Regions from separate parts of the Homo sapiens genome. Here region 1 is linked to region 2. A link means that fine-mapping ties the variant in region 2 to the expression of a gene that starts in the linked region. Tissue or cell type: whole blood. Region 2 holds a variant in brackets; the other region holds the start of a gene. All regions are shown on one strand. Distances are between the middles of the regions.

Region 1 (2,654 bases), 100 kb before region 2:
ATGCCACCAGCATATGCTTTTCTCATGTCCCTTGATGTCCATAGCAGCATTTACCACTCTGCATTGTAGTTGCTTCCTGACTGTATCATTTTCCAGGCCCAAGAAGTCCTTGAAGGTTTCAAATTTTGAATACCTAACATAGTATCTAGCAAATTGAAGTCATTCAGTGTTTGTGGAGCTCAATGGCAACTGACAATCTCGATTCTTTGTATATGTTTAATTTACTTAATTTGTACATGGTTTGTATACTTGCATTCCTATTGCAATGGCCCACTGCCTGGAACACAGCTGGCACGTGATAAGCATTACATTGTAAATATGTAAAAGAATAAATTTGCCGGCCAGGCTCGGTGACTCACGTCTGTAATCCCAGCACTTTGGCAAGCTGAGGCGAGCGGATTACCTGAGGTCAGGAGTTCGAGACCAGCCTGGCCAACATGGCGAAACCTCATCTCTACTAAAAATACAAAAATTAGTCGGGTGTGGTGGCGCGTGCCTGTAATTCCAGCTACTTGGGAGGCTGAGGCAGGAGAATCGCTTGAACCCGGAAGGTGGAGGTTGCAGTGAGCTGAGATCGCGCCACTGCACTCCAGCCTGGGCAACAGAGCGAGACTCTGTCTCAAAAAAGAAAAAAAAAGAAAAAAAAGAATAAATTTGCCTACATTAAATAGCCGACTGTTAGGTGGATGCACATAGAGGAGTAAGAATACAGCAAGAGGGGCACACGAAGAAAGGCTAAATCTCTGGGGTTTGAATGGGGAAACAGTAGGATACAAAGCTAATGAAGGTCTTTAATTATCCAAATATCAGTGAAAAACAGCAAGGATCTTCCGTTTATGCCCTGAACCCCCTTTGTCTTAAGTGCTTAAATATGCTTAGCTGAAAAGACACTGATTCCATCTTTCCTCATTTAACAATCCTTTAGAATAATTTCTAGAGTAGAAATGGAGTTGATAGTGGCTTCCAAAGAAAAATCAGAATCCCTAAGAAAAATACACGGTAAATCCTTTGCAAGGGAGTTATGGTTACAACAGTTTTGAGTCGTTTTGTTCTTGTTCCTTTATCTTGTTCAACTGCAGACCTTCACTCCGGCGGTCTCCGTGGGCATTTAACCCTTTCAGCTTTAACGATGAAGTGGATCCCCTTCAGCATGACATAACTCATAGAGGAGACCGTAACGAGGGTGGGCTTCTGCCACCCAAATGCGGCCACAGACTCCTGCCACGCCTGGCAGTAAAAAAACCAGAGTTCAGGGCATCGACAACTTCACCGGGGCTATTGCGCAGGCTCTGCGTTCCACGCAGGCTTATTAGGAAGAAAGGGGAAAAAAATTTCCCAGAGACACGTGGAACCGAGGGGCCAACCCCGGCCTAGGCTCTCCACCGCATCGGATTCTGGAATTTACGATCACGAAAGTTCTATTGTCCCGCGATTGGCTCCCGGGCCGCATGACATCATAGCGCTTGATTCATCCTTCGGGTCCCGATTGGCTGGCCGCGCCATTGTGACGTCACGGTCAGCCCACGTTCTGATTGTAGATAGCCGGCGCCTTCCTCTTCCCATCGCGCGGGTCCTAGCCACCGGTGTCTCCTTCTACATCCGCCTCTGCGCCGGCTGCCACCCGCGCTCCCTCCGCCGCCGCCGCCTTGCTGCTGCTCAAAGCTGCTGCCGCCCCTTGGGCTAAAAGGTAAAGCCGTCAGCTCCGGGAAACTTCGTCGGGGGCCGCCGCTCGGCCATGACACCCGCGCGAGCGCGCGGCCGGGAAGCGGTCAGAGAGAACTGCCGTTAGGTCTCGGACCTGGTGCCGAGAAAGAGCTGCCGGGGCAACCCGCGCTCCGCCCGCGGCCTCCAGCTCCGCCGGCTCCGGGGTACAGCCCGGCTCCTCGGGCGCGGGGAAAGGGGTGCGGGTGCGGGCGCGGGCGGCTCGCCCCACGCCGAGGCTGAGGCAGGGCGCTCGGGAGCGTTCTCTGTGCTGCGGTCCCACCTGTGCGCGCTGACAGGCGCCGCGGGGCACGACACCGTGCCCACACCAGACGCGGAGGGATGGATCTGTCCGCCTGGGTCCTCCCGCCCTGCGGGCCGGAGCGCGCGGCGGGAGAGCCGGGGGAGCGCTCTCGGAGGGAGCGCGCTTTCTTTGGAGTCGGCGAAACCCGGGTGAGTTCGAAGAGCCTGTGCGAGGGTCTGCGGGCACCGGGCGCCGCTGGGGGGACTCTCCGGCCTTTCCTTTTTGTCCTGTTCTCTCCGCTTCCGTTAACCCTGCGGACCTTCCGTCCGCCCCTCGGAGGGAAGCCTGCTAGCTCGGGACCGCTTCAGTTTTTATTGAAACCAGACAACGGCAGCCCTTGGTACTCAGGGAGGGATGAGGCTGGTGGGAAAGCGAGAGGGCGGGGACTCGGGGGCGACCGGGGCGGCCCTTTCTGGGAGCCTGATCCCTGGAGAGGCGGGAGCGGTTGGCTGCGAGGGAGGCGCGCGGCGGGGGGGCGGTTGTGCTCTGCGCCGGGGGAGCTAGAGTGTGTGTTGTCTTGCGAGTTGTAAGGAAAAGTGCCTTTTTACTGTTTCCACGCCGGTAAGACTCTCCCACCCCACCACCTCGGGTCGACGGAGCAATGCCTAGAGCAAGAGTTGTTCTTGCTGAACTGCGTCTTGCAACCGTT
Region 2 (2,845 bases):
CTCCACACCTGAAAGTCAAGCAGCGCCTGTAGGATCAATCTGGTTAATGCTGATACATTCTCGGTTTTTAAATAGTGTGATTTTAGACTTTTAGTTCTATTGGTGAAGGTACAATATATAATAGAAAGAAACTCCAACAATCCCATACTAAACCTTTGCCCTTTGCTCGGGCTCTTAAAGGATTCACGTGCTTCCAGCTCGTAACTAGTGTTGTCCTACTTTTGCTTGTATTGTAATTGATCTCCTTTCTTGGGTTTTTTTTTCTTTTCTTTTCTCACATAAACCTTCTCTACCTTTTGTACTGCTTGTCTCACATACTATTAAGCCTAATTTGAATTTTTTGTTATAGTCTTCAGTTTCCCAACACTGTTTATACTTCTTTAAACAATAGATTTCATCTGCATGGTAGACAGAATGCCCATGAGTCCCAAGATGTCCATGTCCTAATTCCTAGAACTTGTAGATATGTTACCTTATATGGCAAAGGGGACTTTGCAGATGTGATGAGATGGGGGGATTATCCTAAATTATCTAGGTGAGCTTAATAGAATGCATGAGCCCTTAAAAGGGGAGAACCAGGCCTGGTGTGGTGGCTCACACCTGTGCTCCCAGCACTTTGGGAGGCCAAGGCAGGCGGATCACCTGAGGTCAGGAGTTCAAGACCAGCCTGGCCAACATGTCAAAACCCCGAGAGTCCATCTCCAGTGTTTGAGACGGGGTTTCACTCTGTCGCCCAACAGGAGGGCATATATCCTCTATCTCCCATTACCAAAGATTGATTCAGGCATCCCTTCTTGATCTTTCTAGGAGCTGTGAAGTTGCAGAATTTTGGTTTATTGGGATGCATCCTGGTGCTTGCCTACAGATCTTGTTTTGCAAGTAAGAACAGAAGACTCTGGCCGGGCGTGGTAGATTATGTCTGTAATCCCAGCACTTTGGGAGGCCAAGGGGGGGCGGATCACCTGAGGTCAGGAATTCAAGACAAGCCTGGCCAACATGGCGAAACCCCATCTCTACTAAAAATACAAAAATCAGCCAGGTGTGGTAGCACGCACCTGTAATCCCAGCTAGTCTGGAGGCTGAGACAGGAGAATCACTTGAACCCGGGAGGCAGAGGTTGCAGTAAGCCGAGATCGCACCACTGCACTCCAGCCTGGGTGACTCTGTCTCACAGAAAAAAAAAAAAAAAAAAACCACAGGAGACTCTAGGGAGGCCACCAGGCCTGTCAAGGTTGCATGGTTCTCAGGTGGCAGGCTGGTATCACACCCCC[C/T]GCCCTGACTCACAAACTGTTCCTATTTTCATTTCCTTCCCCTTAAAAAAAGTAGAACTATCTCACTGATGTAAGAAGAACATACTTGGCTTTTTTTCTCGTAAGGAGTCTTAAAAAACACACTGATAGTTGACACTGTATATATCAAGGTTTTCTGGCAAAAATTTCCATGGAATGTAGTTCAGAGAGATGCTCCAGAAAAATTTTTAAAAAGCCTCTGTGGTCAAATAAGCTTGGAAAATGCAGTATGTTTGTTCCTGCCTTGGAATGTCATCACATACATAAGCTTAATAAAACTTCTCAGAAGTCTATAGTAAAGAAGTTCTAGTTCAGTTTTCCCTTTTCATATAACACCCATTAGCAGGAGGCAAGAAATGCTAGTACAGAAGTGGCTTCATGTCTTTTCTCTGTCCCTTTCACTTGTTGCGTGGCTGGTTTAGCACTGTAGGTGGCTCTGGCCTGAGTACGCAATGTGACCCTTTGGGAGTCAAGCAGGTGAGTGCATCCCAGAGCCTGCTGATTACCACCCATTCTTCCTTCCTTTCTCATCGACGGGAACCCCATTTTATGTGGGTCAATGAGTGCTGAGGCTCCCTTGAAGCTTGGTGTGGCCATGTGACATAGTTCTAACCCATGAGATGGGAACAGAAGTCTCTAGAGGGACTTTCAGAAAAGCTCATACATGCATTTTTCTTCATCATTCATTTTCCTGCCTAGAGTGCAGAGGCAATACATGGAGATGCAGCAGCCATCTTGTGACCATGAGGACAAAGATCATTTACCAAGGATGACAGAAGAGAAAGTTAGCAAGAGCCTTGACCCCTGATGAGGTGAAGTCATTTCACCAGCCTATCACAGCTTCTAGTCTTCTTGGGAATGTAAGAAAAACAAACTGTTATTTGCTTAAGCTCTTATAGCTAAGTTTCTGTTCCGTGCAGCTATTATTCTAATCAAAATAATGTTTCAGTGTTTATTCCTGAATATCACATAATTTTGCTCTGTAGGTGTCATCTTGGCTTTCTTTATGAATGGCAATTACTGGCTGGGTGCGGTGGCTGAGATGGGTGGATCACTTGAGGTCAGGAGTTCGAGACCAGCCTGGCCAACATGGTAAAACCCTGTCTCTACTAAAAATACAAAAAAATTAGCCAGGTGTGGTGCCACATGCCTGTAATCGCAGCTACTTTGGAGGCTGAGGTAGGAGAATCACTTGAACCCAGGAGGCGGAAGTTGCACTGAGCCAAGATATCACCATTGCACTCCACCCTGGGCAACAAGAGTGAAACTCTGTCTCAAAAAAAAAAAAAAAGAAAAAGAAAAGAGAAAAGAAAAGAAAAGAAAGGCAATTACTGGATAGGGTCTAAGAAGTTTACAAAGCAGGCCAGCAACAGCATCAAGTCATTCAAGTCAGTGTTTCTCAATGTGGCCCCCAGACCAGCAGCCTCAGCACCACCTGGGAACGTATTAGAAGTGCACATCCTCCGACCTCGCCCTAGACCTGCTGAACCTGAGACTCCAGGGGTGGGGCCCAGCAACTGGTGTTTCAGCAAGCCCTCCTGGTGCTCCTTACATAC

Evidence for each region. PIP is the estimated chance that this variant, and not a neighbour inherited with it, causes the effect.
Region 1: ELOVL5 starts here. The variant in region 2 is fine-mapped to the expression of ELOVL5 in whole blood (TOPMed, PIP 0.91).

The regions. Positions count from the first base shown.
Region 1 is chr6:53,347,850-53,350,503 of GRCh38, reverse strand. It overlaps ELOVL5 (ELOVL fatty acid elongase 5), which reads left to right and starts at 1,554. Exons shown (of 8, transcript NM_021814.5): 1 at 1,554-1,687. RefSeq lists a silencer at 1,714-2,153.
Region 2 is chr6:53,243,575-53,246,419 of GRCh38, reverse strand. LOC124901332 (a long non-coding RNA gene) reads left to right here. Exons shown (of 4, transcript XR_007059612.1): 2 at 808-879; 3 at 1,989-2,149; 4 at 2,276-2,375. Among named protein-coding and RNA genes, the nearest start is that of MIR5685, 32 kb to the left of the region's middle. The variant C/T (reference allele first, on the strand shown) is at 1,272.